3 linked regions of the Homo sapiens genome follow. The protein of the gene in region 1 interacts with the protein of each later gene in a pairwise test. Each region holds a gene or a part of one and is shown on either strand. Other genes may lie near its edges.

Region 1 (9,824 bases):
GTTTTCTGCCCTTCTGGGTAATTACCATAAACATTATTCTGTATGCAGCCTAGATGTAGGGTACTTCTAAAAAGCTGTAGAAAAATGTAAATCATATAAAGCAGGCACTCATCTATTGGATTTTACTAAAAGCTTCATGCACAATAACAACTATATTTTCTTTATAAAAAAATGAAAAAACAAACTTCTAATGAGCATTTTTCTGTGTCAGACACTGTGTTAAATTATTTAAATTATCTCAACTCTTACAGCCTTTGAATGAGGTAGTACGATAGCATATGATTTTATAGATGGGAAAGTATTTAGACACAACATGTTTGCTGAAAAATTTAGGAATTAATGAAAACCCTAAGTCTCTCTGGGGACTAAATATGAACCCCCAAATTTAGAAGGAGAAAATTTAGGCTTTTGTGGGCAGAGGTGTATGGGCGACTACAAAACTTTCCCCAGTTTCTACAATAGGATTTTAACATGCAGAAGAATAATTGTGAAACCAAGTCCGCAGGTGACTTGCTAGGGGTGGCACAGTCGAGTTCTTTAGAATGTGCTTGTGCTGCAGCGTGCCTTAGAGCCTCCTGAAGTTCTCTAAAAGCTCTTAGAAAAATTGTCTTAGGTATGTGTCAGTGGCTGTCTCCTCTAAGAGGTGGAATCTATGCTTCGACAATCTCAATTAGACGGAAGGATCCTTAAAAGATGCAGAGAAAGGGTGCTTTATTTTGTTTTTGGACTGCAACAGGAGTGGTTAATCAGAATTAGGCTTATTTTATTTTAATTTGATTTAATTATTTTATTCTTCTTTTGTCTGCAAGAGCATGAGCTACATGATTCTGTGTTCCTCTTTCCCCGTTCTTCTTTCTTGTACTGGATTACATATAATCTTGACACCACCTCTGCTCTAGTTGACTCTAGTTCTTGATAAATCACTTTCTTTTTCCTGGTTCAATAGTAGACCACGAAATTGGAATAGGTGGGGTGCTGTGACCGACAGAGCTCAAAGTCCTGTCTTACTCATCATTTTTATAAACTCTTCTTACAGAACAAGCTAGACTCATTTAATGGCAATTTAAAGAATTGTAAAACACACAACCTGTGTAAGAGTAGGAAATAGCACAAATAAAAAAATAAAAATACAAGACAGAGCTGAGAAGTGGCAAATGAACAGTAGAGACTTGGTAACTGATGTGTCTAGTATGTATTTCCTGGCTCCTGGATTCTCCTTTGGACTTCCCATAATAGAGTGTGACCAGACTGAACCAGGGAGCTTTTAGGTTAAAGCTTAAACAACCCTGATTTTTACTACTTCTCACCTTTGTGAATTCAAGAGTCAGGATATGGAGCTCTGCCATTTCTTAGTGGCAAACTGTGTGGACCATTTTCTCACCCCAGCGCTCAGACCATAAGGCAACCAATAGATTTTTTTTGGGAAAGGTGCTCCCTTTTGCATTTCCCAAATCCAGCTTTTCAATTTTCCTCCCCAATATGTTAAGCTAATCTTTAAAGGGGTTCAAAAAGTAGAGACAGTCTAACTTACCAGACAACGGGAAAGCTCCTTGGATGCTGACACAGAGAGAGAGCCAGAGATAATAAACTGTGGAAATGGACAAATTTATTTGTGAAATGGGTTAACTGGTTGTGCTTGGGAATTTCTCTTTATATGAAAGGTTGGTCTATTTATGTTCATCTAGTTTCCTTCTCAAAATTTTCTCTCGCACTTCTGAATTTTCTGGAGTAACTCTCAGTCATATGTCCTTGACTTCTTTTTTATTTTCTTTTCCTTAATTTCTGGCCTATGAAGAACTCACAATGTTTAAGCATTCCTTGTTCTGAGGCTTACTGCTCCATCCCTTCTCATAATCAATTGCATTTTTTTAATTAAAAAATTTTTTTAGAGATTGAGTCTCACTATATTGCCCAGGCTGGCCTCCATCTCTTGAACTCAAGCAATTCCCTGGCCTCAGCCTCCCAAGTAGCTGGGACTACAATCACACACCACTATGCCTGGCTTACTTGCATATTTTTAATCATGTTTCCAATCACCTTTTCTTTTCTTTCTCTCTCCACCCAATACATACATTTCCATCTCAAATGTAGTAGGATATCAAAACTTTGGCTTGCTGATTACATGATTAAATTTTAAAGAATGGAATAAGCTCCTAGGTAAAATGGCGAAAGAGTTCCCGATTTTTTCATGCTCATTCAGAGCTGTTAATTTTTCTAAATTCTCCAGCCCTCATTCAGAGCTGTTAATTTTTCTAAATTCTCCAGCCCTCAGATGTAGGGCTTTATCAAGAAATGAGTTGTGAATTGGCTGGAGATAGCAATACTTTATAAACCAAGAGGGAATACTTTATAAACCAAGAAGGACTGGTGTTCTAGCAATCTACTCACAGAAAGGCCACCCCAGAATGGGTATCCACCAATAACAGCAGTAGAGGCAAAACCTAATACTTCTCTAAAAGAGAAGGATATTAAACACAAAACAATTCCAAAACCAATGTGCATCAATCCAACCATGATCTGGATCACCTGAAAAAAGAAAACAGCCATTTAAAATTACTTCTTCACTTTCAGACGTGTGAAACATTACTGTCATTGCTGCCCCTGCTTATTTATTGTCAATTTTGCTGAGATCCATCGTTGTCATTCAGGCACACATCTGAAGCAGGAGGTGGGTCATGAAGATTCTGACATATACTAGAATAACTGGAGTGCAAGGCCCTTAGTGAAACGCCCTGTTTTGAGGTATTTGGAGAATTTACTGGGGTGGCCCAAGAAGAATTCTTCAGAAAGTACAGCTGCTTAATCATGCATTAGCATCTCTGAGGGCCTCTAAAAGACTATTAGAAAAACAATACTTTAACTGTGATGTCAGTAGCTGCTTTTTCAGATGGATCAGTTCTCTGCTTGGGTCATCCCAGTTACGGGTAAAGGAATTGGTGAAGATAAAACCATTTATTAGGCATGAATTATGTGCTTGGTCATGTTCTGAACACTTTACATTTATTGTTTCATGTAATCCTCCTACAACTGGATTGAGTCCCAGAGACATAAAGATATCAGGTATCCAAGGTCACACAATTCCTAAGAGGCAGATCTGGGAATTTACTGCAGCACATTGACTGCTGAGCCTGTCTGAATTATTCGGTACTGTCTTCCCCCATGCTCAGCTCTGCTCTACCTTTTCCATGAAGTCTTCTTGATTACACCAAATTAATCTTTTTTCTTTCTTTCTGAATTTCAGTTGCATCTCATGACATAAAACACACCTTATTACTTGATTTTGGATTCATTTATATTGTTTTTTTTTTTGTTTTTTTTTGGTTTTTTTTTGAGACAGAGTCTTGCTCTATTGCCCAGGCTGGAGTGCAGTGGCATGATCTCGGCTCACTGCAAGCTCCGCCTCCCGGGTTCACACCATTCTCCTGCCTCACCCTCCCGAGTAGCTAGGACTACAGGCTCCCGCCACCATGCCTGGCTAATTTCTTTTTGTATTTTTAGTAGAGACGGGGTTTCACGGGTTAGCCAGGAAGGTCTGGATCTTCTGACCTCTTGATCTGCCCGCCTTGGCCTCCCAAAGTGTATATTGTCCTTTTTTAAAAAGTTGCAGGTATGCAATCATTTTCTTACCAATCATTCTTCTTATCAATCATATATTACTAAAAGTAAGGTATACATCTTTTACCTCCTTGTACCTCTTATTGAACCTTCCTTCATTGTAAATAAAGATAGATTTCTGAGGAATAATCATTTCTAGATTGGTCCAAAACTTGATTGTAGATTTGTAATTTATTTTTCCCCATGGTTACATCTTATCTATCCAGGGAGACTGCAAATACAAAGACTGCTGTATTTATTTCTTCAATAAATAGCTACTGAACACAAGTAAATCGAATTAAAATTAGAAAAAAACCCAGTTTCATAAACAATGCTAAAAGTTTCTTGAGACATCAATAAAAACCATGAACCTTTCTCCCTGAAAAATTATTCTTGCACATTCATACACACACATACCATACTTTTGCTTATAGCTTCAGAGAGATGATGGGCCACGTTTAGCCTATCTCACTTAAAGAACTCCTGTATTAGACTTTATATTTGGTTTTTACAACTGTTCTTTAGAGCAGCAATTCAGCCGTCTGGTCACAAACTTCCCATTCTCATCCTTGCTGTCACCTTGATGAGGGGCAGTTAGATCTGGATTTGTACTGGCCCTCATTTCTCCTCCTACAGCCCTGGCTGTACCATCTACTGATCAAAATTGCCTATAGGACAGACTTAAAAATTTGGACATACAATTTGTCTGCATTTTTGGCCACAGAAGCACTTTAAGGTCTGAGTTGACTGGTACAGGTGTGCCAAGTCCTGCCACCTGTGGCCCCTGCACTGTCATGATGCCCAGGGCCTGCTGATGGCATAGAAATAACAAATCTTCAGAGAGAGGAAGTAGCTTCTGCCAACTGGAGATTTTGAAAACAAAACTTCACATTCTTTTAAAGTATTTTTATCACACGCCTCTTCGGTGCCGGGCAGCATGCTTCAGTGGTTCCTCATCCACCCAGTCAAAGCCAAAGCCTTCTGCTCTGCAGGCCTCACCACCTGTGGCCTCTGCCACTCATCTGCCCTCCTGACAACTGCCCCCTCCCTCACTCATTCTGTTCTATTTTATTGGCCTCCTCCCGGTTCTTCAAATACCTCAAAGACATTTTCATCTAAAGACTTTTACACTGGTTGTTTTCTCTTTCCCTAATATCTGCAGGGCTCACTCCTAACTTCAGGTTTTTGCTCAAATGTCATGTTCTAAGGAAAGCCCATTCTGACCACCTTGAAATTGCTGCCTCCTCACTGCCTAGTACTTTTTAGCCCTTTTACACTTCTTTGTTTTGTCTATATCATTCGACACCTTCTAACACACTAAGTACTTTACTTCCTTATTATGTATACAGTCTGATTTCCCCCTCTAGGGCGTAAGTTCTGTGAGGGCAGAGATTGCACCTCCTTTGTGCTTAATGATATTCCAAGCACCTGTGTGGGGCTGGCTGTATGGGGTGTTAGTTTGTCCCATTGGCTTATTAGGAGCAGGGAATTTCCTCTATCTGGGAGGAGGAGGATCAGAAGGGCCACCTCCACAGCTTAGTAAATAGGCTGCTGCAGGAGAACTTATGCTCATTTTTACTTCCCTAAAACATCACAACTTGAAATACATAGTAAGATGGCTAGAAGAGTTTCTGGCACATAATGAGCATTCATTTACGGAATGCTCCAGCAGAGCATTTTGAGCTATTCACAGGGAGAGACTTAATATAATTTGGTGGAATTGTGCTAGCGGGATGAATGATGTATTTGGAAAGCACGGAGAAGGGACTAACAATTCTACCTAGGCAGGTGGAATTTTCTTACAAGTAGGGCATTTTTGTTTTTACAATGCCTACAGAAACAAGGCAGTCAGTTCAGAGTCTCCTTTGTAGAAGTAAGGTGACAGTTAAACTGTAGCATCTCTAAGGGTATTGGTGAAAGAGGCATAGCAGATGGAATGTCCCCCAATTCTTTCACACTCAGCCTTTCCCAGACTGCCCATTTGTAGTTTCCTTTTCTGGGGGCAGCCATCATTGTTCATTGTTATGTAAATTCACCTTTATGCAAAAACCAGACTTGTAACTAATCCAGAGATGGGATTGAGATTGTCCAAAAAGTCCTTTGAAGAAATGAGATCAAGCTAGATGTAACAGTGCTTCTGTCACGTCAATATTACCAAATTCTCCAGCTAGGGAGGCTCCTCTGTGTCTTGTTATATTTTTGCTTGATCTAAAATGAAATGAACTCAAGGGAAAGTCTATAGGCAGACTAAATATTTCTGTCTAAAAGAGATAATTTCAGAATAACGTTCAGAACTTTTTAGCAATTGGATGATACTCTCCTATAACTTATAAGAAGACCTTGCAAATGTGAAATTAAAATTCTGGTAGTAAATAGACTTACCCCTAGTGCCTTTGCTTCTTCTTTAAAGTTCATTACTGCTGTTCCCACACTTGGATTTATCATTTGTATATTTCCTTGACCCGGTTGACTGCTAGCAAAGATTCCCGGAGATGTGATGCCGTAGGGCTGAGCACGCTGAGCACCCTGAGCTTGGTTTTCTAAGTTGATTGAACCCAGAGGCTGTTGAAATCCAGGAGCCATAAAGCTGCTTGGTGGGTAAGGGTTGGGTATGGTTTCATTTACTTCAGCATGGCTTGTTGGCTTGGATGACATCATTATGTCCTAAGTATCACAAAACATACAAAAGTGATACGTTTATCCAGAAAAGAAACTAAAGAAAATCTTACCAAATGTCAAATGTCAATTATCTATGCAAATGGAGAGAACAAGTGAGCAGATAATGGGCCATAACAACTGATAGAAACATGATTCTCATAAGTCCCCAACCCCCACGCCAAGGACTGGTACCTGTCTGTGGTCTGTTGGAAACCTGGCTGCACTACATGAGGTAAGCAGCAGGCAAGCATTACTGCCTGAGCTCTGCCTCCTATCAGACCAGCATGGCATTGGATTCTCATAGCAGCATGAACCCTACTGTGAACTGCACATGTTGGGGATCTAGGTTGCATGCTCCTTATGAGACTCTAATTCCTGATGACCTGAGGTGGAATAGTTTCATCCTGAAACCATCCCTCATTAGAGAGATGCTATGCTGCCAACTGTGAAGTTGGAGGAAGGCGTCCATGAACCAAGGTGTATGGGTCGCCTCTAGAAGCTGGATGAAACAAGGAAACAGATTCTTCCCTAGAGTCTCCAGGAAGGAACATGACTCTGCTGACACCTTGAACTTAGTCTAGTGAGCTGGTATTGGAATTCTGACCTACAGAACTGTCAGATAAAAAAATTATATTGTTTTAAGCCACTACATTTGTGGTAGTTTGTTATATCAACAAATAGAAAACTAATACAGGGGCCAAGTAATACAATACTTGTATGGCAAGGAGGGCAGTCCAAGATTAAAATTGTTTGCCAGTAATTGGGAAACTAGATAGTTCACATATGCCCACTTAAGATGATTCTTCTGTTCTTTAGGAAAAATGCTTTTATTCATTTCTGTCCTTCTGAAAGCTTAGAGCATCTCAGGCCCCATGTAGGCAAGGGAAATTTTGTTGGAAATAAGCCAGTACAACTGAATATGGACAACAATGACTATTAATTCTTGAAAAAAATTATGACACTTAAAAAATTTGTCTTTAGCCTTAGATTCCTTTTTTTGAGGTCTTCAAAAGCACAACAATTTTCTTGTGCTTATGAATATCAAGAAAGTTAGAGTGATGAATGTCTCATTCTTGGTATGAAGTATGAATACTATGAATAACCTATTGGTACAATGTATCACTGGTATCTAACAAGGACACATATGCAGACCCTGTGCTCATAGAATCCAGAAATTTTAGGGTAGAAAAGACCCTTTCCATTTATCCTGTCTCATTCCCCTTGATTTACAGATGAGAAATTGAAGCTGAGTCGTTAAGTGACATGCTCAAGGTTACACAGAAAACATGTGGCAGAGTTAGGACTTGAAAATGGGATTCTTGGCTGTTGGTTCAGAATCCCCCTCCATGCAGCATCACTCTGGACATTTGCAGCTTGTTTTCCAGGCCAGCCTTGGTGACAGGGTATTGACTCTGCTCCTGCAACTACCCAACAACAAAACTTCTGTCTTCTGATGCCATGGAGAGGAGTTTATAAACCGGATTAACTTCTTTGTGATTGAGTGAGTTAGTAAGGATTCTCTTTAGCAAGCTTTAGGTGAGGTGTATAGAGAGCTAACATTTATTAAAGACTTATTATAGGCACAGTAGGGTCTGTATAGTGTCATGTTTAGGAACATGAACTTGGGATCTAACTCCAACTTTGTGTCTTTGGCAAGTTTGTTAACCTCTCTTTGCCTTTGTTTTCTGTCTGTAAAATAGAGCTAATAAGACTACCTTCCTTAGAGAGTCAGTTTGAGTATTAAAGAGTTATTCTCTGCAAAGTATGTGGAATTGTGCCGATTACAGGGTTGGCTCTATTATTATTTCTATGTTAAGTGCATGAGATACATTATCTCTGTACCCTTTACAGAACCCCATGAGATAGGTACTCTACTAAAATCCCCATTTCACAATGAGAGAATTTAATCCAGAACCTGTACTCATAACCCTTACCCTCCGATACTAGATGCAACTGAAAATGGTTGAAAACTCAATGAAAAGGGAGAAAACATCTTTCTGAAATATCTGATTACAGAGGAATTTTTTTTTTCAAAATGGAAACACATCCAGCACTTTAGGAGGCCGAGGCGGGCAGATCCCGAGGTCAGGAGATCGAGACCATCCTGGCTAACATGGTGAAACCCCGTCTCTACTAAAAATACAAAAAAAAAAAAAAAATTAGCCGGGTGTAGTGGTGGTCGCCTGTAGTCCCAGCTACATGGGAGGCTGAGGCAGGAGAATGGTGTGAACCCGGGAGGTGGAGCTTGCAGTGAGCCGAGATCGTGCCACTGCACTCCAACCTGGGTGACAGAGCGAGACTCCATCTCAAAAAAAAAAAAAATGTAAACACATTTGAGCCCACAAAAGTTTATTTTAAACAAGGAAAAAGGAAACAAGTCCATAGCTGTGACTCTTGGAGTAACACCACGTAACTCTCAATAGCATTTGAGAATGTGAGGTTATACATCCTATGGATCTGGTTTCGGTGGCCAAATATTGCTCAAGCCCTCTTTTCTAATCTTCAATCTGCTACTTCACTAAGTCTGGGACTTTAAGCAAGTTTCTTAATGAAATCCCTGTTAGTTCCTATGTCTCAACTGTAAAATGACAGAAGGTACCTAAGGAGGCTAGTCTAAAGTTCAAATTATCCTAATTTATGCAAAACTGTTGGAACAGTGCCTAGCACATGGCAAGAGCTTAAAAAGGAACTATTATTTTATTATTAGATCCCAAGGTATTCTATCTTGTTTTAGGCAGTGGATGTGGCCATAGGAAAAGTTTATAAAAGGAATTGAACAGGGTCAATTTCAAGAGCAAAGAAATAGGAGATGGGTACTCAGAGTACAGTAATTAACCAGAACAAGAATTTTTTTGAGCTTTTAAAAAGCATACAATTAAAGAATTGTCCACGTTTCTGCATGTATATGATTTCATTACATTCTCCTTTGCTGTTGATCATTGCTTTTTTTTTGTCTCGAGAAATTTTATGAGGAAAACTCAATACTTTTCATTTATTTATCAACAGTTTCTCCTTTCATATCTGCTGTTTAGTTTCTGGACTAAGATCTGTAAATTTCACATAGAACCCAGATTATTCATGGCTAGGTCTATAGTTATTAGGACTCAGAATACATTTTTACTGGGTCAAGTTCTGGTTTTATAAAAGGAATTAAAGACAGAGCCAGCCAGTTCTGATTCTTTAATTATTCAATTGAAATGAAGACAATTCTGTAAATGATACATGAGAAGGGAAACTAATAAATAGACTCCTTTTATAGATTCCACCTATTGACTTAGTAGGATTGTTCTCTTGACAGTTGACAAAATATTTACCCCTAGTTGTCCTTTTTTTAAAAATAAGAATTAGAACAACTGCAATTATTTTTAAGAACAAGGAACACATAAAAATATTGGAGCTCTGATGAGATCAAAAGTATAAGACTAAAGCAATTAGAGAAAACCTCAGCAATTTGCTCTGTGATTACATTATTTCAAATAAAAATGGGAAAAATTTACTTCTTTATAGTTTCTTTCTACCTCATTTTCATGCTAACTTCACTTTTGACAGAGTGAAGATGATTATTATTTTCA
Region 2 (11,486 bases), on another chromosome or scaffold:
GCTAATTTTGTTGTATTTTTAGTAGAGATGGGGTTTCACCCTGTTAGCCGGGATGGTCTCCGTCTCCTGACCTCGTGATCTGCCCACCTCGGCCTCCCAAAGTGCTGGGATTACAGGCGTGAGCCACCACACCTGGCCCCAACAAGCAGATTTCTAAGGCACTAAAATGTGCAGGTCATTTTCAGAACTCTGATGGAAGACCCTCATCCCCTCAAAGGCACTGCAGGTAGGGAGCAAAAGGAGCCCACTTCCCTCACACCCAGTCCCTGAGAGTCAAGAGACCCAAGTGCCAAGCTCTATTACAGGACTCCTGGCAAGTCCTTCTAACTAGACCTCAATGTCTACGTCTGTGTAATGGGACCCAGATGCGCAGGGCTGGATTGCTGAGGCCACAGGGGATGCCCCCACCCATCCCAACCCCAATCAGGAACACAAGCCTGCCCTAGAGGAAGCTACCAAGACCCTTGCGGCCCACAGCAGCAACATCCTCCTCTTACTCCAATGCCTTCCATTCCCCCTATTGCCCCTATTGCTAGTCTCTTTCTTTTTTCTTTTCTTTTTTTTTTTTTGTGTGTGTGTTTGTCTGTTTGAGACAAAGTCTCATTCTGTCACCCAGGCTGGAGTGCAGTGGTGCGATCAAAGTCACTGTAGCCTCAAACTCCCAGGCACAAGGGGTCCTCCTACCTCAGCCTCCCAAGTAGCTGAGACCACAGGCGCATACCACCATGCCTGGCTATTTTTTTTTTCCTTTTTTTTGTAGAGACAGGGTCTCAATATGTTGCCCAGGCTGGTCTTGAACTTCTGGCCACAAGCAATCCTCCTGTCCATCAGGGGCCAGCCTCAGGATCCACCTCACCAGGGATGCTGAGGGATCCCTCACAGGGATCTTGCCAGTCATCATCCTCCACCCAGCAAGATCCCTCTTCTGTTCCAAAACCTCTTAAGGCCACCAACAGAACCTAGACCCTGTAGCTCGCAGAAGTTACACAAGGCCCTTGGCTTCTGTCCACACCAGAAACAAGTGCTTCAACTCCAGCACCACCAACCTGTTGGCTACTCCCTGCAAATTAATTCAACTTTCTCATCACCACATCTTGGCTCACACTGTTCCCTGCCCTTGGAACACCCTTTCCCTGCGTCTGCCTCAGATTTCAGTGAAGTCTCTGCTCAAAAACCACCTCCTCCAACAAGCCTTCCTGGTCGTGAAATTGCTCTCCTTCTCCTCTGCCCTTTCGCACCACTTCTCACACCCACCTGGCTCTCCCCTGGGCAGCCAGGCAGCTGCTCATGGCTGTGCCCCTCACAACCAGCCCAGAGCAGAGCATTCTAGCGGTGGCGGGGTCAGTGGCTCTCCCCATCTGCAGAATTAAATGATTCCAGGAACTAGACCTCTTCCCTCAGAAGACAGAATCTTCTCCCCTTCTCCCCCACCCCCCAAAAGAGAAACAAACAAAAAACTCTGGGAGAACTGTTAAAAATGAATTTCTGGCTGTACTTCCTGAGATTCAAATTCCGATTGCACATTTTTTTCCGGGGGTGGAGTCCAATAATCTAAATTTTAAACAAACCCGCCAGGAGATTCAGAGGTTGGGGAGGGGGCCCACAGAGATCTGAGAAATCCTGAAATGAGATAGCACTGACCCAGGTAGAGGTGGGCCCGCACCTGGAGAGGTCAGGGAAGGGAGACTGGACCTCAGCCCAGGGTCTGGCACCAAAGCAACCACCCTGCCCTCTAGCTTGGGCCTCGCAGCAGCGCTAGCACCCAGCAATAGGAGACAATGGGAAATGTCCACTCGCTGGATTGCTAAGAAATACAGGTCCTGGCCCAACTCCAATTCCACCTGAGTCCTCTGAAAATGTATCAGGCCCTCACCCACCCAGGGCACCCACCCAGCTTCCAGACCCTCACGAAAGGGTGGCAGAGGAAGAAGCTAACATCCGGGCCTGTGGCTGGTGTGGGAGTGGAGGATGTTCCCATGGGTCCGCCTCAGTTGGGGTCTGTACAGGGGTCTGGGAGAGAGTAGGAGTCTTGCCCCTGGCTACCCACAAACCCCTCCCTCCAGCGATATCTCGGTCCCGTGGGGCTGGCTAAACCGGCTGAAACCTGGCGGGTCACCCAGAGAAAGCTAGAAGAGCCCGGCTCCCGCGCGGGCGCCCACAGGGTAGTGCCTGAGTGTGCGTGTTGGGGAGTCGGATGTGCCCTCTAGATTAGATGAGGAATGTTCATGGGTGCGGCCACCCGGAGCCGCTGGGAGCGGGACAGAAGGTGGTCAGAGAGTGGACTTTGCCTCAGACTGGGTTCCCTAGAGGGCTGGGGGCACTGTCCGGGCAGAAAGAGGGGTGAAAAAGAGAGAGGAGGGAAGGGAGGGCTGGGAAGGGTTGGCGGGTTGTGCGCAGTGACTGTGGCTCCGGTGGGGGCTTCTGTGGCCGCTGGTAACCACCTTGGAGGGGGCACGATGGGGCACGGGCAGTGGGCACTCTGTACACGGTGCAGGGTGCTCACGCTCGCAGCGACGGCCACGGGGTAGTGTCGTGGTGAGAGGGATGCAGGGCGATCTTGGGGGCGTCCGTGCGGGAAGCGCCCTAGGGGTACGCGCAGCGCGTCGGTGACAGTGTGAGCCCGGGTGGGGAGCGCAAGGTTCGCGAAAAATGAACGCAGCGCCGGAGTCCCTCACCCATCCTGGCCGGACCGGGAGCCCCCGGCCAACCCCGTGGGCCCGCGCGTGCTCTCACCAGCTGCAGCAGCATGAGCGCCCCGAGGCGGGAGCGCACGAAGCCCAGGTCCGGGCGCAGCGCCGACACCGAGGCTTCGGCGCCCTGCGCAGGACTGCTGGTCCGCGTGCTAACTTTCGACGGGAACTCGGCCATGGCGGCTCCGCTTGCCTCCCGAGGTCGCTACGGCCGCCGTCGCCGCCCCTCCAGCGGTGGGTGCCGGCTCCCGCGCCGCTTTTCCCCCAGGCTCCGGATCCCTGTGTGGCTCCAGGCGCTGCAGGAGGCGTCGGGGCTGGGAGCCTGGGGCGCCAGGTGCGGCCGAGATCCCGGCTCCGCCCCCGCCGCCGGGGCCGCCCCCTTAACCCTTTGCTCGCCGCCGCCGCCCCAGCCGCGACCGGTTCGTGGGCAGCCGCGTCCACTCCCCGGACCAGTAAACAACCCCGGGTCCGTGAATCGGCTCCGCCAGCACCAGCCTAGACCGCTTCGCCGGCCTCCCCCGGGGCAAGCCGCCCGCTGGGAATTTCCCGGCTCTCGCCCAGGCCGTGGTAGCTTCCGCGCCTAGGGATAAACTTGTGGTAGCTCGCGGGGGACACCGCTCTCCCAGGCGCTTTCTACGCGCTGTGCACCCTCGGCCTAGGCCCCGGCGCAGCGACTCTTGAAGAGTCCCGGGAGAAGGCTGGATGCGGTGGCTCCTGCCTCTGATCGCAGCACTTTGGGAGGCTAAGGTGAAAGGATAATTTCAGGCCAAGAGTTCGAGACCAGCCTGGGTAACACAGTGAGACGCCCCCCCTCCCCCCGTCTGTATTTTATAGAAAAGAAAGTAAAGAAGAATCCTGGGAGACCCAGCGCGGGGAAGGGGAGGGTCTGGGTAAGCGGTGGGTAAGCGGTAGAAGGGGGAGGTCCTTTTCTGCCTATTAATGCTGTTTTCACTTCTGAACATATTTTATATAACTTAGATGATCGCGGAGCCTCAGTTTCCTCGTCTGTCATATAGATACGAAGGAAACCTGCCTCACAGAGCGTTGTAGGGAATAAATGAAATATTCCCCAGAAAGCTCCTGACAGCGTGAGGGAGGAGGGGTCACTCAGAAGATGGGAGGTCATATACAGTTTCATTGCCACACATGCACCCTAAAATACTTACACACACACACACACCTCTTGAGCCTAGAGGTTTGCACAGATAGGTCATCATGCATTCATCAACCAATGTTTGCTGAACACCTACTACATGCCAGGCCCTGTGGATACAGCAGGAAACGAAGTAGACAAGGCCTTCTTGGCTCCCACATTTTTTTTTTCCCAAATACCCACTTAAAAAGAGAGCCACTTAAAAAATTGTTTTTAACTGACATGTAATATTAGGTTGGTGCAAAAGTTATACGGTTTTTGCATATAAAAGTATAGCAAAAACCGCAATTACTTTTTCGGCAACCTATAATTGTACCTAAATATGGGGTACCATGTGATGTTTTGGTACCTGTGTACGTTGTGTAAAAAAATCAAATCAAGGTACTTAGCATATCCATCACCTCATACATTTATGGCTTCTTTGGGGTGAGAACATTCAAAATCCCCACTTCTAGCTACCATATTTTGAAATATACAATATTAGGGCCAGGCGCTGTGGCTCACGCCTATAATCCCAGCACTTTGGGAGGCCAAGGCAGGCAGATCACCAGAGGTCATGAGTTTGAGACCAGCCTGGTCAACATGGCAAAACCCTGTCTCTACAAAAATACAAAAAAATTAGCCAGGCATGATGGTGGGTGCCTGTAGTCCCAGCTACACAGGAGGCTGAGACAGGAGAATCACTCGAACCCAGGGAGGCAGAGGTTGCAGTGAGCTGAAATCATGCCACTGCACTCCAGCCTGGGTGACAGAGCCAGACTCCATCTAAAAACAAAAACAAAAAAAGAAAAGAAATGTACAATATTGGTATTTTTTTCTTTTTACTTTTATTTATTTTGAGGCGAGGTCCCACTCTGTCACCCAGGCTGGAGGGCAGTGGCATGATCATAGCCTACTGCAGCCTCCAACCCCTAGGCTCAAGTGATCTTCTCACCTCAGCCTCCCTAGTAGCTAGGACTACAGGTGCACGCCACCATGCCCAACTAATTTTTTTTTTTTTTTGAGATGGAGTCTTGCTGGAATTACAGGCTCGAGCCACCATGCCCAGCTAATTTTTTGTATCTGTAATAGAGACTGGGTTTCACCATGTTGGCCAGGCTGGTCTTGTGATCCGCCCACCTTGGCCTCCCAAAGGGCTGGGATTACAGGCATCAGCCACTGGGCCCAGCCCTGACTAATTTTTTTAAATTTTTTTGTAGAGATGGGGTCTCTCCATGTTGCCCAGACTGGTTTCGCACTCCTGGCCTCAAGCGATCCACCCGCCTTGGCCTTTCAAAGTGCTGGAATTACAGGTGTGAGCCACCATGCCCAGCCCTAACTGTAACTTTGTACCTGTTAACCAACCTCTTTGTATCCTCCCACTACACCCCAGCCTCCTGTAACCACTATTCTACTCTACTATGAGATCAATTTATTTATTTATTTATTTGAGATGGCGTTTTGCTCTTGTTGCCCAGTCTGGAGTGCAATGGCGCGACCTCGGCTCACTGCAACCTCCGCCTCCCAGGTTCAAGCAATTCTCTTGCCTGAGTAGCTCGGATTACAGGCGCCCGCCAGCACGCTAAGCTAATTTTTTGTAATTTTAGTAGAGACAAGGTTTCACCATGTTGGCCAGGCTGGTATCAAACTCCTGAAATCAGGTGATCCACCTGTCTTGGCCTCCCAAAGTGCTGGGATTACAGGCGTGAGCCACTGCACCTGGCCGAGATCAACTTCTTTATTTCATTCCACATATGAGAGAGACCACGTGGTGTTTGTCTTTCTATGCCTGGCTTATTTCACTCACATGATGTCCTCCAGGTTCATCTGTGTTGCCACAAATGATAGGATTTCAGTCGTTGGATCCCACTGTCTGGTGGGGATGAGAAGTAATAAACCCGGGAGGAATAATACTTTCAGATAGTGACAAACGCTGTGACTAAAGTAAAATGGGGGAATGTGACACAGAGTCACCCACAGGTGATTTCTGGGTTAAGGTGGTCAAGGAAGACCTGTGGGAAGAGGTGACATTTATGCAGAGACCCAAATCATGAGTAGGGGCTAGCCTTGGGAATTCTGGGGGAAGAATTTAATAAGTGCAGGAGCCCTGAGGCTGGACCAGTTTTGAGAACAGAAAAAGGTCCTTGGTAGGGCTAGAGCCAAGTGAGTAAGGGTGAGATTGGCAACACGGGCCAGGGCCGGATCACACAGGCTATTTAGAGGACTGTATTAGTGCCCTGTGGCTGCTCTAACTTGGTGACTTAAAACAACAGAAATTTGGCCAGGCACGGTGGCTCACGGCTGTAATCCCAGCACTTTGGCAGGTGGATCACCTGAGGTCAGGAGTTCCAGATCAGCCTGGCCAACATGGCGAAACCCTGTTTCTACTAAAAATACAAAAAAATAGCTGGGCGTGGTAGTACACGCCTGTAATCCCAGCTACTCAGGAGGCTGAGGCAGGAGAATCACTTGAACCCGGGAGGCGGAGGTTGCAGTTAGCTGAGATTGAGCCATTGCACTCTAGCTTGGGCAACAAGAGTGAAACACGGTCTCAAAAAAAAAAAAAGAAAAGAAAACCCAGAAATTTACTCTCCTGTAGTCCTGGAGGCCAGAAGTCTGAAATCAGTTTCACTGAGCCAAAATCTTCCAAAATTTGGGAAGAGCCAAAATCAGGTGTCCTGAGGGTCATGCTCCCTTTGCAGAGTCTAGAGGAGAATCCCATCCTTGTTCTTCCAACCCTGGTGGGGCCTGCTGGCATTCCTCAACTTATGACTGCATCAACCCTGTCTCTGCCTCCTACGTCACATGGCCTCCTCCTTTTCTGTATGTATAACATCTCTCTCTGCCTCTCTTATAAGGACACTTGTGATTGTGTTAGGGCCACCCAGATACTCCAGAATAGTTTTCCTCAAATAAAGAATCTTAATTTGAGGCTGGGCGCAGTGGCTCATGCCTGTAAACCTAGCACTTTGGGAGGCCAAGGCAGGAGGATGGGTTTGGCTCAGGAGTTTGAGACCAGCCTGGGCAACACAGCAAATACCCCTGTCTCTAAAAAAAAAAAAAAAATTGGCCGGGCGTGGCGGTGCACACCTGTGGTTCCAGCTACTTAGGAGGCTGAGGTGGGAGGATTGCTTAAGCCCCAGGAGGTTGAGGTTACAGTGAACCATGTTTTTGCCTCTGCACTCCAGCCTGGGTGACAGAGCAAGACCCTGTTTCAAAAGGAAAAAAAAAGAAAAAGAATCTTAATTTAGTCACTTAATCTGTAAAGACCTTTTTACTTTATAAGGTAAAATGGACAGGTTCCAAGAATTAGGATCTGTTCTGTTTGTTTGTTTGAGACAGGGTCTCACTCTGTTGCCCAGGCTGGAGTGCAGTGGTGCCATCCTGGCTCACTACAACCTCCGCCTCCAGGTTTCAAGCAATCCTCCTGCCTCAGCCTCCTGAGTAGCTGGGACCACAGGTCCTTGAGCCACCATGACTCACCAATTTTTTGTAAAGACTGGGTTTCACCATGATGCCCAGGCTGGTCTCGAACTTGAGCTCAAGCAATCCTCCTGCCTTGACCTCCCAAAGTGCATGAGCCACTGATACATCTTTTAGTGGCAATTATACAGCCTACCACAATGATGGAGAAGGGCTAACATTTTATTTTAAGGCTTGGAGTGTTTTTTTTTTTTGAGACGGAGTCTCGCTTTGTCGCCCAGGCTGGAGTGCAGTGGCGTGATCTCAGCTCACTGCAAGCTCTGCCTCCCGGGTTCACGCCATTCTCCTGCCTCAGCCTCAAAGAGTAGCTGGGACTACCGGCACCCGCCACCACGCCTGGGTAATTTTTTGTATTTTTAGTAGAGATAGAGTTTCACCGTGTTAGCCAGGATGGTCTCGATCTCCTGACCGCGTGATCTGCCTGCTTTGGCCTCCCAAAGTGCTGGGATTACAGACGTGAGCCACTGCGCCCGGCCAAGGCCTGGAGTGTTTTAAGCAGGCGAGAGACAAGCTCTGATGAACACTTTAAAAATATCACTGGTTGATGCTGACTTAACCCTTTACTCAACGGGATGTTCAACCCCCTCCCCTCAATGCACCTGAGCCCCTTCCCCTGTCCCAGCACCCCACTTGCAGTAGGTGCTCTGGAAATGAGGAGTCTTCTTGGTAGCTGCAAAATTGTTACTCAGAGACCAGCCTCTCTGCAGACAAGTCCAAGTGCAGAACAAAGCTCGGGTGAGCCCTTAATTTTATTGTGACACAGAAAACAAAAAGATGATTGTTTCTGAGGCAGATTCTAAAACAGTAGGGTGTTTTTGTTTTGGTTTTGGTTTGGATTTTGTGGGTTTTTTTTTTTTTGTTAATCCCACTTTCATTCTTTTCAAATGGCAGCAAGCAAGACTGAAAAGACTGAATCACTCCACTGTTTTTCACTTTGACATTTTCTCCCAAACCAACTTCACTCGCCCCCCAGTCAGAAAAAGTGGGAAGGAACCTGTCCCCAGACTGGAACCAGCTGCCCACCCACAGTCTCCGCTGGCGCCACGGGGTCCTGGATTCTTAGGATGGGGTGGGGGGACAGACAGCCTGTCTACTGCCAGGACCGGCCTCCCCTTCCCGGGCTCTGAGCAGCCTATCTCCACACGGGATACCTGCAGTACATGTCTTGCCTCAGTTTTCTCCAGTTCTACAAAAGTTCCCTGCTCTGACCTTATCCCCACTGCGTACTGGGCCTGCCCAGCTGTGGCCCCAGCTACTCAGCTACTCAGCAGTGGGGGTTCAGGCACGAAGCAGATGTTTAGTGTGTGCCTCGGGAGTGCCAGGCCCTGGGGATGGAGCTGTGAGCTGTGATGAGGGCCCCCACCTTCAAGGAGTCTAGTGGGGGAGACAGACAGTCTAGATGTACAAACCCACCAAGAAATAGCAACTCACCAGTAGTGATGATGTCACCACAGAAAAAGGGCAGGGAGCCAGGGGAGAGAGTAATTCTGAGGATTGGGAGTTGTCATTTAGATAACTGGGTCAAGGAAGGTCTAAACATTTTAGCAGAGACCTGGAGGATGAACAAGAATCAGACAGGAGAAGAACATTGCAGGCAGGGAAAACTGCCTTCTGTGCAAAGGCCCTGAGTCAGGGAAGACTTTGAGATCTCTGAGGAAGCACCGAGGGATAAGAGTTGGGAAGATAGGGAGAGATGAGGTTCAACAGGCAGCCAAGAGTCAGATCACTTGGGTCTTAAACCACTGAAGGATTTACACTATTAGATTTACAATTGTTGTTGTAGCTGGGTGTGGTGGCTCACACCTGTAATCCCAGCACTTTGGGAGGCCAAGGCAGGCGGATCACCTGATTTCAGGAGTTTGAGACCAGCCTGGCCAACATGGTGAAACCCTGTCTCTACTAATACAAAACAATTAGCCGGGTGTGGTGGTGCATGCCTGTAATCCCAGCTACTTGGGAGGCTGAGGCAGGAGAATCACTTGAACCCAGGAGGCAGAGGTTGCAGTGAGCTGAGACTGCACCATTGCACTCCAGCCTGGGCAACAAGAACAAAACTCTGTCTCAAAAAAAAAAAAAAAAGACAATTGTTGTTGACACAGGGTCTCACTCTGATGCCCAGGCTGGAGTGCAATCGCATGATCATGTCCCTCTGCAGTCTTGAACTCCTGGGCCCGAGTGATCCTCCCAGTTTTACTTCCCCAGTAGCTAGAACTATAGGCGTGTACCACCATGCCCAGCTAATTATTTTATTTTATTTTTATTTTTAACTTATTTTTACCATTTGTTGTTGAGACGGACTCTTACTCTGTTGCCCAGGCTGGAGTGCAATGGCGCAATCTCAGCTCACTGCAACCTCCACCTCCTGGGTTCCAGTGATTCTCCTGCCTCGGCCTCCAGAGTAGCTGGGACTACAGGCACCTGCCACCACGCCCGGCTAATTTTTTTGTATTTTTAGTAGAGATGGGGTTTCACTGTGTTAGCCAGGATGGTCTTGATCTCCTGACCTTATGGTCCACCCGCCTTGGCGACAGGCCTAATTTTTTTTTTTTTTTGAGATGGAGTCTCCCTCTGTCGCCGGGGCTGGAGTGCAGTGGCACGATCTCAGCTCACTGCAACCTCCACCTCCTTCTCCTGCCTCAGCAATTCTCCTGCCTCAGCCTCCCGACTAGCTGGGACTACAGGCACCCGCCACCACACCCAGCTAATTTTTTTTTTTTTTTGTATTTTTAGTAGAGACAGGGTTTCACCGTGTTAGACAGGATGGTCTCGATCTCCTGACCTCGTGATCCACCCGCCTTGGCCTCCCAAAGTGCTGGGATTACAGGCGTGAGCCACCGCGCCTGGCCTAATTTTTTTATTTTTTGTAGAGACAGGGTCTCGCTGTGTTGCCCAGGATGGTCTCGAACTCCTGGCCTCAGGGAATCATCCTGCCTCGGCCTCCCAAAGAGCTGAGAGCACAGGCTTGAGCCATCACACTCTGCCTTTTACAATTTTAAGAAATTCACAGAAAGGTTCCCATGGGAGTTCATCTAACAGCTTCCAAAAGCCAACTTCAACGAGTTGCTGATTGCAGTCAACAAATATTGATTGAGTACTTTTCCAACTGGCCCTATGCTTGGTGCTGTGGGAATGGTTCCTTTTTTTTTAAAATACATTTTATTGTGTATATATAAGATATACAATATGTTGTAAGATACATATAGAGTAAAATGGTTACTGTAGTGAAACAAACTAACATATCCATCATTTCACATGGGTACCCATTTTCCTCCCTGTGGCAAGAGCAGCTATAATCTGCTCATTTAGCAAAGATCCTGAATACAACACACTGTTATTAACTATAACCCTCATGCTGTACATTAGGTCTTTCCACTTCTTCATCCTACATGTTTGCCACTCTGTACCCTTTGACCTACATCTCCCCATTTCCTAGTTAGTTTTGAGGGCTTTTTTTTTTTTTTTTTTTGAGACAGAGTCTCTCTCTGTCACCCAGGCTGGAGTGCAGTGGCGCGATCTCGGCTCACTGCAATCTCTGCCTCCCGGGTTCACGCCATTCTCCTGCCTGGGACTACAGGCGCCCGCCACCATGCCCGGCTAAGTTTTTGTATTTTTAGTAGAGACCGGGTTTCATCGTGTTAGCCAGGATGGTCTCAATCTCCTGACCTCGTGATCCGCCTGCCTCGGCTTTCCAAAGTGCTGGGATTACAGGCGTGAACCACCTACCCAGCAAGATCTAGCTTTTGTGCTCAGCCTCTGGGTGTTGACCTCTAAACCCTTGGAATGTCATATCTGATAGTCATTGTTTAGGGTGGAGCTGGCCACACCTGATAGTCTAACAATGTGGTTTAGCCTGGGGTCTGGCTGCAGCAGGTCACCGAACAGTGTGGCTTAGGGTGGAAGCTTTGGGACACAAGATATGGACCCACATAGCTGGACCTTAGGAGGAGCTGGAGTCTGAGATTTGCCACCTGGGCAGTCAACCCTGCCTGCATGATGGGACCTCAATAAAGACTCTAGACACCAAGACAGTGAGTTTACTAGGGTGGCAATAGTCTGTGCACATTGTCACACATTGATGCTGGGAAAGTAACGCTGTCCCTGATTCCACAGGGAGAGGATAATGGAGGTTCCAGGTTTGGAACTTTCCTAGCCCCTTCCCTATACACCATTTCCCTTGGCTG
Region 3 (11,534 bases), on another chromosome or scaffold:
CTGAGTGTGGCAAACACCTTCCTTTTGCCCATCAGCTGCCTGGGCACACTTACAAAGTGGTGCCCCCACTTCTCTAGCACCGCGGCCCTCCCCAGCTCCTGCTCCCAGGGAGAGGGCTTTGCCTTTCAAATGGAGGTGGTAAGTGTGCACAGAGACTTTTTGCTACTCTGTTACTGAGTTGCCTCCTCTTACTCTTAGTCCCCTGCAGTCCTGTTTTTGAAAGAACATGAGCCCATATCACTCCTCACTGTGAAAGTCATTTCTCTGTAGAAATGACTTTTAATTTCTAAGCTCCACCTTTTTATTTTTTATTTTTATTTATTTTTTGGGCATTTATTTATTTATTATTGATTTATAATTTCTAAGCTCCACCTTTTTATTTTTATTTATTTATTTTTGAGGCATTTATTATTTATTATTATTTATTTATTTTTATTTATTTATTTATTTCTGTCACCTAGGCTGTAGTGCAGTGGTGCAGTCACAGTTCACTACAGCCTCAACTTCCGCGGGCTTAGGTGATCTCCTACCTCAGCCTCCTGAGTAGCTGAGAGCACACACACGTGCCATCATGCTTGGCTAATTTTTGTGTTTTTTATTGTAGAAACAGGGTCTCACTATGTTGCCCAGGGTGGTCTCGAACTCTTGGACTCAAGCAATTCTCCTGCCTCAGTCTCCCAAAGTGCTAGGATTTCAGAGCCACCATGCTTGGCCATCTTTTTATTTATTTTTTTTAAGCATTTGGCTTATTCTTAGCGTTAAGCCAGGGGTGGGGCATTTTGAGTGAAAGAAAATGCTAGTGAATTTCTTTCAGTGCATGTACAACATGAAGGAAGAGAAGGCTTTTTATTAGAATGCATTTTCCAAGACTGTCTTCCACGTTCATTTGAGAATGTGTCATGAGCTGACAAATATGGACAACTTCATAGTTTCTGACACATTAGGAAATCATAGGGACACCAGAGAAAAAGCTTAAGTGAAGCTTAGGCCAGAAAGTGAGGTACATAACGGAAGGGAGAGACCCAGGGGTGTGGGCATTTCTGCTATTAAGAGACTCCACCTTCTCTTCAATCAGTGGAATCTTTTTTTTTTTTTCAAACAACAAAATCTCTGTGACTTTAAATGCCACTTACTGGCTTCCACAACGGAAAAGGTTGTCAAGGAGCCAAAAACATCCTGGAAATGAGTCCTCGTGGGTCTGTCTCAAGGAGTGTGACTTTAGCAACTCACTGAATTAATTGTAAGAGTCATGGTGGTGGGGGGCGGGCAGCAGCAGGGTGAACAGCAGGTCTTTGCCGAGTGACCACACGTGTGGTGCCTACCTCCAAGGCCAGGGGGACTCACCACACCCGAACCATGGGAGGGCGGCCAGGGCGGGGAGTCTGAACTGTGAACTACATGGCTCACTCCTCCCCACCCTCCCAACCTCTTAATTGGTTGAGTGTCATATCCATCAGGTCTGCAGAGGTGAAAAATGTTGCAACTCGCTTGCCTGGGTGCTTGGAATGAAAGTCTAGGGGCAGAGGCAGATATTAAAGAGCAGGTATAGTCTCTGTCTTCAGTGTTTGTGATCTAATGCGCAAGGCCAGAGCAACTCACATAAAACCAGTTGACATACATAACCCTGTGTACAAATGGAGCAAGTTTGACTTGCCAACCCAGTAGCAGTTGGGAAACTATCAGTTTAACAGAGGAAGCCAGCAGTGTCCTCTGCCAGTTGAGGGCTTTGTCAATTTACAGCATTATAGGATATCCTTTGCTGTGAACTGCCTCAGCTTCCTCTTGCGTGAAGCATTCTAAGTTGGGAGGCTTTCTTGGGGTGTGGAGGTGATCAAAGACAGCTGTCACCTAGCTGCTGTGATCTGTTTCCTCAAAACAAAGAGGCAGAGAAAGAACCTTACTTAGGGCACTTTGCATCTAAGTGTTACAATTATCCATTCATCATTTACTCAACAAGTGTTGAGCACCTGCCATGTTCCAGGCACAGCACTGAGCTTTGAAGATACAGTGAGAACAGTCCTGGCAAGATCTCTGTCCTTACAATGCATGAGGTGGACAGTAATCAGCCAAACACAAAAACTAATTCCAACAGTACTATGGTTGGGGCTGTTAGTGGCCCCGTGGCAGGCATGAAGTCAATGGTAAGTGTACAGGCATTCCTTCCTATCCTCACTCTCCCTCTCCCAACCCCACTGTCTGTTGTTGGGGACCAGTTAGATTCAAATACCTTTTCAAATGAATCCCTCACTATTTGAACTCCCACATTTACTCTCTGAAACTCAAGGACACGTGGATTTGGTAATACTGTATCCCTCAAAACTCAAACTTGCTCTCTGAATTCTGATATTTGAATGCAGTAACCAAGTCAATTTGGATAAAGAGGGATGGGTATAAAGATAAGTGAATGGGCCAGGCACAGTTGCTCACACCTTTGGGAGGCCAAGGCAGGCAGGGTGCTTGAGCCCTGGCATGCGAGACTAGCCTAGGCAACATGATGAGACCCCATCTATACAAAAATTAGCCGGGTATGGTGGTGCAGGTCTGTAGTTCCAGCTACTCAGGAGGCTGAGTTGGAGGATTACTTGAGCCCAGGAGGTTAAGCCTGCAGTGAGCTGTGATCATGCCACTGCACTCCAGCCTGGGCAACAGGGAAACCTTGTCTCAGAAAAATAGTAAGTGAATGGCAAGTGAAAGTCTATAGGTTATACTGTCTCATAGGCAGGAAAATGGAGGTCGAGGATGTTCTGCTCAGTGATGACTGATACTGAATGAGGCGTGCAGGTCTGTGTGCAGCAATATAAAACAGAACTCATTAATGGAATACAGCTCACATTTGGGACTTTGATAGTGTGCCTGTCATTTAGCCCTTTTCTGATACTCTGTAAGACAGACTGGACCTTAACCTGCTCATTTGTATCTGACTTTGCCAGCAAAGATTAACTTTGCAGAACTGTGTCCTTTCGAAGAGGCCATTTTGGGGAATAAAAAGGTCTCCATGCTTTCTGAGCTCTTCTCCAGGTAGGAATCTCTGGATGACCCAGACATTATCCCATTGAGTCCTTCCTCTTTCCGGGCAACTGTTCTGTACTTGCCCAACTCCAGAGACACAAGAAGCCAGACTCAATTCTGCCTCATGGCTACGAACATTAATCACAGCATCTTCCTGAGTCTATCAGTGTGTGCATTCTATCTACCCCATTTGAGAGTTAAAGAGACCTTGATTTGTAGAAATAATAGTTGCAATCTAGTTGTGTCTAGCAGGCGAGAGCCAGTGGGACATGTGTGTTCTTGCAGCAGAAAAGGGGAGAGCTCTGCTCCTATTTCTACAGTGGGAGGCTACTATAGTGGACATCTGGTGTTTCTGCTGCTCAGCCTCCATATACTTCTCTCTTGGTAACGTCACCTCCACCTTGAGTGGCATTGTTCAAGTCACTGGATGAAGTCTCACCCGAAGCCATTATTACCTCTTAGCTTCTCACTTCCTAAAGTAATACGTTCCTTTCATCACTAAAGCCATTTGGAATGGGTTTTTCTAACTTTTGTTATTGAAAGAATCCCAATGGATACAACTGTCTATTCTTTCCCCCCAAGTATCTCTGGATTTCTTCTGGCTTCTCTCTTCTTTTTCATGCAACTAGTAAATTGTTTCTGAAATATAGATAAAGCAATTTCTTAGTGGGAAAAGAGTTTAATAAATAGGAATCAAAAAAAGAGAGAAGCAGTTGTCTCCAAAGTCTTTATGACTGTTTTCATGACTGTTTCAATCATTTAAAAACATTTATTGAGTACCTTTTGTGTATCAGACAGTATTCAAGATGGTGGACATGGCTGTGGTTCACCACATGAACAAAGTTTTGGCTCTCCTTAAGCCCACATCCTAGAGAGGGACAGGGGCAGGGAGACAAACAATAGGCAAATTAATCAATCAGGGAAATCTTGGGTAGTGAAAAGTGCTTGCAGAGTTAAGCAGGATGTTGCTATTTGGGCTCTGGTCAAGTAGAGAAGGATACTCCTCCTCTTCCTTTCATGAAATGCAATTAACAGCCCTGGACAGAATGCATGGAGAAGCTAACTGAGGATTCTAGAAAAAAAAAAAAAGGAGCAGGAATATTTGGGAAGGAAACCAGAATTCAAAACACTACTAAGCTGTTGGTGAGTTTCCCATTTTCTTTCCTCTGGTACCTGTCAGCCAGCGTCAGAGACCACCTGAAACCCAGAACTGTACACAGGATGCAGACAAAGACATCTCCAAAAGAATCCATGTTTCTGGTCTGAGGAATGGGAAAGAGAGCCCCAAACAGTCAGAGAGAGTGTAGAAAATCTCTGTTTTTTGTTTGTTTGTTTGTTTATTCTTTCCTTCCTTAGCCCCTGTGCAATCTCGTGACAGTGGTGGTGGCAATGGAAGTAGCAGCCAGGCAGGTACCTGGAACTCTGAGAAAGGGGAACCTTTGTCTCTGATCAGAGGAACCATGATCCTAAAAGCATGGGGGGAATAATTTTCACATTTGTGTTTCTCTCTCTCTCTCTCTCTCTCTCTCTCTCTCACACACACACACACACACACACACACACACACACACATTGCTTTGGTCCTGAAGATAGACCCAGTCAGAAGAGATGCACAGCAGAGAAGGAAAATGAAAACCCTGGTCTTTAGCCAGAAGACCAAGGCATATCTTCATTTCTTAATATACTAATTGCTTCAGAAGGTGGAAATGGCTCAGGGCCTCTCAGCTTAAGAGACTAAGGGGTTATGGGTTGTATTATTTTCTCCATTTCATAGATATGAGCCTAAGAAGGTTGTTTTTCTTCTTACTTAAACTTTTCCTACTATGCCATGTTGTCCATGGGCAAGTCAAAGGTATCCTACAGCCTGTAAGAGTGGCACAGTGCTTATTTGCAACCTTTAAGAGAGGTGGCAAGATGTGGGATTCATGGAGAAATCTCTCCTTTGCTTGGATTAATCCTGTAAACAAGGTGGTGTAGGTGAGACTGGGGTTGGCAGGTGGGATTAGGGTCTCCCTTACTTCCTAGTTTCCGTAGCCTGGGAAAAAGGGATGATCAGTCTGGTTTGAGATCCACTGGGGGGTTCATTGCCTTTCTTTGCAATGCCTTTGGTCTTAGCTTCATTTGTCCAAACTCCTCTCTCCCTTGGCTCTCCCCAGACCAGGCAAAGGCCAAGCTGGCTGGTCTCCCCACCTGTGGCCCTGAGGGCAGGACCTGGCATTCACCGTTTCTGCTAATGAGATCAAGACATGGCCTCTTCTAATTACTCCAGCCCTCACACAATCTTCCCCACATGCTCTCCACACCAGGGAGCAGCAGGGGGCAGGAAGAAGGGACCCTAACCTGGAGCATCCTGAGCAGACTGTTTCAGGGCGGGTCGGGAAAATGAAGGTTCGCCAATTCAAAGGTGGAGGGGAAAATGGTTCAGCCTTTGGGACTTGTATTTGGTGTGAAAGGAGTTGCTTGCCTCTGGGTCACAGCCCTGCATTCAGCTCCCTGACTTGCCTAGGAGTCAGGAAGAAACTTCTTGGTCTCAAGCCCAGTTAGGGGCAAGGCACTGGCTGGAAGGAAGGCCAGGGAAGGAAGGAGGTTGTCCACTAGAGGCAGCAGCCAGCCAGCCCAGCCCTTCTCTGGTGCCTGCCGGTGTGGTCCTCTCCCAGAGACTGGGGGGCCTTCATCTGCCCCATGAGGAAAAGAGGAGTGGAGGACCATGGAAAGGGATCCAGAAAAAGAAGGAAACACCAAGTCCCAGGGGCATGAGCTGGAAGGGAGGGCTGCTCCTCCCAGGGGAGGCTGGGGACTGAGAGCTGTCCCCAAGAGTGGAAAAGGAGGGAGCTGGGCAAGACCCAGCATTGTTAGTAACCAGCTCTGTGGTCTTGACTTGACCTCACTGATTCTCAGTCTCCTCACTTGGAAAAGGGCAAAACAGCCACGTGCAGGCCGTGGTGGGCACCCGGGCTGTCTGCAGATAGCTTGGCTCATTGTTGGTCCTCAGTACGCAGCCCTCGTAGCCAAGCAGCTTGGGCCTACACTCTGGGCCCAGGGGAGTGGCTGTCGCTGGCATCCCCTGGAATAACATGCTCCGGGGGTCAAAGATTCCTTAGCTGGAAAGGTCTAGGAGGAGACTCCCGCTCTGCTCCCTCCTGCACCAGCGCTGTGCCCCCCGCCGGCCAGGCAGAGCCATCCGATGCCGCTGGGCCGCCCACTGAGGATCTGCTGGCTGCAGCGAGTGGAAGGACCTGCTCGGCTGGAACGTTTTTTTTTTTTTTCCCTCCCAGGCGACGTCCGATGGGTGTGTCGGGCAGGAGGTGATATTTGACAGGCTGCGCGCGGGCGAGCTGCCGCGGAGCACCCGGCAGGGGCTGACAGCATGGCCTCGCCCGACCCGCCCGCCACCAGCTACGCCCCGTCCGACGTGCCCTCGGGGGTCGCGCTGTTCCTCACCATCCCTTTCGCCTTCTTCCTGCCCGAGCTGGTGAGTGCGGCACCCCCGACCCGGGCCACCTGCAGAGAGGGAGGGGGAGACCGGCCTCGGACCCAGACCGGACCGAGAAGAGAGAGACCCAGACCGGACCGAGAAGAGAGAGGGGCAGCAAGCACAGGGGCCACCTGCAGAGAGGGGGGGGGAGACCGGCCTCGGACCCAGACCGGACCGCGCCGAGAGAGACCCAGACCGGACCGAGAGCGGGGAGCGAGCACAGGGGCTGCGGTGGCTGCCAGCCTCCCACCGGGCGCACAGCGGGGCGCAGCTGTACTCAAGAGGCAGATGCCACTCGGTGCCCCGTCTTATGCCGCCAAGGGGGTTCCTCCCTCCAAAACAAAACCCACTTGAGTGTGGAGGCCTGGGGGGACGTCGCTAAAATATCCAGGCTTCCCAGGGAGATGTTGCACATGAATTTTAATTACGCGGCTTCTTTTGTCCAACTATTTGTGCCTTTCTGGTTTGAAGTGAGGAGACTGTGTTTCCCTCTGAGAGTAGGTCTTCCAGTGTTTTCTTAATTGTCACGTCCGCTGACTTTGAACTTTGACTTTTGTGGGGTCTCCCACACCAGGTAGCTATGGCAACATCTGCCATAAAACAGTCGTGTGCGGCACCCTGGTTGCAAATGAGAACCTGTCGCTGTGTTACTCTCTGGGGCGCCCTACGACTGAGTCGTGGCCCTGATCCCTGGGGATCCTGCCTGCTCCCATCTGCAGAGCTGTGCGTATGCAGCGTTCCGCACTGCACAAGTTCCCTCGGAACTGGCTGGTACCACATCCTCTTCACGGAGGAGCACAGTCAAGCCTGGGGTCCAATCAAGGCAAAGGAGTGTTTTCTTTTTCCAGCACCTTCTGAAGTATCTAGCTTGTGGGTGGTATTTTCTTACCTGCCCTGAATTTGGCAGTGCTGTCCCTGAGCAGGGGGGAAAAGATAGAAAGTGCATCTACTTTTCAGCCCTTCTCATTCTCGTCTTCTGCTTGCAAAGTTGGGCCCCCTCAAGCCACTTTTAGGCAAACTGGCGAACGGGTTAGCCATTGATGGCGACCAGAAAGAGAATCAGGCAGGGTGGGCCTAGGATCTGAGTGGCTCCAGCTGAAACCCCACCTAAGAGGCAGGTTTCTGCCAAGGCTACCATCCCCAGCACAGCGTGGGCATCCTGCCAGACTGATGACATAACCGTGCTCTGATGAGTCCTACGTGCCAGGCCCTGGGTGTGCCCCTCACCTTGGAGCAGCTGCATGGGTGGCTGGGGTACTGGTTGACTCTGCCTCTTTTTATTGAGCCTGTGGTTCATGTCAGTCCTGCAAGCCCCTGGTGACAGGGCACTGCCTCCTGGTGGTTTCCTGTCTGCCGGGAAGAGACTCATGAGCATTTCCTCCCAACAAGTGGATGGTGGCCTCAGCAAGGAGGGACCATCTGAACTCTCCAGGCCAAGGAGGGGTCCAGGCCTGCCACCAAGAGTTGGACCTCAAAGAACAGGCATTTACAGGCTGGGGGGAAAGAGAGGGAAAGGCCTAGAGGCCAGGGGAGAAGTCCTGGAAGGAGGCTAGAGGCACGGAGTTTCTGGAACCAGGACAGCACCCAGGGTGAGAAACATGAGAGGTCATGTTGGCCGCACCTGCCCTGCTCCTGCCAGTGAAACTCCTGGAAGAGCAAAGTGCACGCTGGTGTTGGGCTCTGGGGCCTTACGTGTTGTGGGGGGTGAGGGGCTCAATGACAATCAAAATTCACATTGGCCCAATTTTCTTCATTTATTTGTACTGTTAAGTAACGTGAGATTTACAGTAAAGCTGCAATAATAGTAGAGAAAGTTCTGTGTACTCTTCCCTCAGCTGCTGGTAATGCCTGCATCTTCCGTGGTACAACTCTTGAAATCAGGAAACTAACACTGATACTGTGCTATCAAGTACTCTATAAACCTTACTCCAGTTTTGCTAATTTTCTCACTAATGTCCTTTTTCTGGTCCAGGATCCCACATGGCACTTAGTTGCCGTATCTCCTTCATCTCCTTTAATTTGGGAAAATCTGGGTCCTTATCTTGACACTTCTGAAGAGTACTGATTAGGTTTTTTTCTTTTTTTGTGCTTTTGAAAAATTTATTTTTCCATAAATTATTGGGGTACAGGTGGTATTTGGTTACATTAGTAAGTTCTTTAGTGGTGATTTGTAAGATTTTGGTGCACTCATCATCCATGTATACACTGCACTACATTTGTAGTCTTTTTTTTTTTTTTTTTTTTTTTTTGAGACAGAGTCTCGCTGTCGTCCAGGCTGGAGTGCAGTGGCGCGATCTTGGCTCACTGCAAGCTCCACCTCCCGGGTTCATGCCATTCTCCTGCCTCAGCCTCCCGAGTAGCTGGGACTACAGGTGCCCCCACCATGCCCAGCTAATTTTTTTTTTGTATTTTTAGTAGAGACGGGGTTTCACTGTGTTAGCCAGGATGGTCTAACTCCTGACCTCGTGATCCGCCTGCCTCGGCCTCCCAAAGTGCTGAGATTACAGGCGTGAGCCACCGTGCCTGGCCCATATTTGTAGTCTTTTATCCCTCACTCCTCTCCCACTCTTCTCCCCAAGTCCCCAAAGTCCACTGTATCATTCTTATGCCTTTGTGTCCTTATAGCTTAGCTCCCACATATCAGTGAGAACATACGATGTTTGGTTTTCCATTCCTGAGTTACTTCACTTAGAATCATAGTCTCCGAGCTCATCCAGGTCAGTGCGAATGCTGTTAATTCATTCCTTTTTGTGGCTGCATAGTATTCCATCATATATATGTATATATTTATATATATACATATATATATATATCACAGTTTCTTTATCTACCCATTGATTGATGGGCATTTGAGTTGGTTACACAATTTCACAATTGTGAATTGTGCTGCTATAAACATGTGTGTGCAAGTATCTTTTTTGAATAATGACTTCTTTTCCTCTGGATTGATACTGAGTAGTGTGATTGCTGGATCAAATGGTAGTTCTACTTTTAGTTCTTTAAGGAAACTCCACACTGTTTTCCATAGTGGATGTACTAGTTTACATTCCCACCAGAAGGGTAGAAGTGTTTCCTGTTCACCACATCCACACCAACATCTATTTTTTTTTTGATTTTTTGATTATGGCCATTCTTGCAGGAGTAAGGTGGTTTCACAATGTGGTTTTAATTTCCATTTCCCTGATCATTAGTGATGTTGAGCATTTTTTCATGTTTGTTGGCCATTTGTATATCTTCTTTTGAGAATTGTCTATTCATGTCCTTGGCCCACTTTTTGATGGGATTGTTTGTTTTTTTCTTACTGATTTGTTTGACTTCCTTGTAGATTCTGAATATTAGACCTTTGTCAGATGTACAGATTGCGAAGATTTTCTCCCACTCTGTGGGTTATCTGTTTACTCTGCTGTCTGTTCCTTTTGCTGTGCAAAAGCTCTGTAGTTTAATTAGGTCCCAGCTATTTATCTTTGCTTTCATTGCATTTGCTCTTGGGTTCTTGGTCATGAAATCCTTGCCTAAGCCAATGTCTAGAAGGGTTTTGCCAATGTTATCTTCTAGAATTTTTGTAATTTCAGGTCTTAAGTTTAAGTCCTTAATCCATCTTGAGTTGGTTTTTGTATAAGGTGAGAGATGAGGATCCAGTTTCAATCCCCTACATGTGGGTAGCCAATTATCCCAGCACCATTTATTCAAAAGGATGTCCTTTCCCCACATTATGTTTTTGTTTGCTTTGTCAAAGATCAGTTGGCTGTAAGTATTTGGGTTTATTTCTGGGTTCTCTATTCTGTTCCGTTGGTCTATGTGCCTATTTTTATACCAGTATCATGCTGTTTTGGTGACTATGGCCTTATAGTATAGTTTGAAATCAGGTAGTGTGATGCCTCCAGATTTGTTCTTTTTGCTTAGTCTTGCTTTGGTTATGTGGGCTCTTTTTTGTTCCATATGAATTTTAGAATTTTTTTTTCTAATTCTGTGAAGAATGATGGTGGTATTCTGATGGGGATTGCATTGAATTTGTAGATTGCTTTTGGCAATATGGTTATTTTCACAACATTGATTCTACCCATCCATGAGCATGAGATGTGTTTCCGTTTGTTTGTGTCATCTGTGATTTCTTTCAGCAGTGTTTTATAGTTTTCCTTGTAGAGGTCTTTCAACTCCTTTGTTATGTATATTCCTAAGTATTTTATTATTACTATTATTATTTTTTGCAGCTATCATGAAAGGGGTTGAGCTCTTGATTTGATTCTCTGCTTGGTCGCTGTTGGTGTATAGAAAAGCTACTGATTTGTGTACATTAATCTTGTATCCAGAAACTTTTGCTGAATTCTTTTATCAGTTCTAGGAGCTTTCTGGAAGAGTCCTTAGAGTTTTCAAGTTAAACGATCATATCGTCAGCAAACAGTGACAGTTTGACTTCCTCTTTACTGATTTGGATGCCCTTTATTTCTTTCTCTTGTCTGATTGCTCTGGCTAGGACTTCCAGTACTATGGTGAAGAGGAGTGGTGAGAGTGGGCATCCTTGTCTTGTTTCAGTTCTCAGAGGGAATGCTTTCAACTTTTCGCCATTCAGTATTACGTTGGCTGTGGGTTTGTCATAGATGGCTTTTATTACATTAAGATATGTCCCTTGTATGCCGATTTTGCTGAGAGTTTTGACAATAAAGCAATGCTGGATTTTTTCAAATGTTTTTTCTGCATCTATTGAAATGATCATGTGATTTTTGTTTTAAATTCTGTTTATGTGGTGTATCACATTTATTGACTTGCATATGTTAAACCATCCTTGCATCTCTGGTATGAAACTCACTTGATCATGGTGGGTTATCTTTTTGATACATTGTTGGATTCAGTTAGCTAGTATTTTGTTAAGGATTTTAGCATCTATGTTCATCAAAGACATCAGTCTGTAGTTTTCTTTTTTGGTTACGTCCTTTCCTGGTTTTGATATTAGGGTGATGCTGGCTTCATAGAATGAATTAGGGAGGGTTCCTTCATTCTCTATCTTGTGGAATAATGTCAAAAGGATTGGTACCAATTCTTCTTTGAATGT

Evidence for each region.
Region 2: the proteins of MS4A12 (region 1) and PLLP interact in binary tests that used the Homo sapiens proteins (3 or more experiments, as listed by UniProt).
Region 3: the proteins of MS4A12 (region 1) and MALL interact in binary tests that used the Homo sapiens proteins (3 or more experiments, as listed by UniProt).

Annotation. Positions count from the first base shown.
Region 1 is NC_000011.10:60,493,747-60,503,570, reverse strand, and holds part of MS4A12 (membrane-spanning 4-domains subfamily A member 12), read right to left. Parts: intron 6,259-9,824; 5' UTR 6,253-6,258; coding exon 5,977-6,252; intron 2,527-5,976; coding exon 2,389-2,526; intron 1,589-2,388; coding exon 1,532-1,588; intron 1-1,531. UniProt on the Homo sapiens protein: May be involved in signal transduction as a component of a multimeric receptor complex.
Region 2 is NC_000016.10:57,281,673-57,293,158, forward strand, and holds the start of PLLP (plasmolipin), read right to left. Parts: upstream 3,001-11,486; 5' UTR 2,869-3,000; coding exon 2,734-2,868; intron 1-2,733. UniProt on the Homo sapiens protein: Main component of the myelin sheath that plays an important role in myelin membrane biogenesis and myelination. Plays an essential function in apical endocytosis. Regulates epithelial development through the regulation of apical endocytosis.
Region 3 is NC_000002.12:110,110,635-110,122,168, reverse strand, and holds the start of MALL (MAL-like protein), read left to right. Parts: upstream 1-6,346; 5' UTR 6,347-6,376; coding exon 6,377-6,481; intron 6,482-11,534.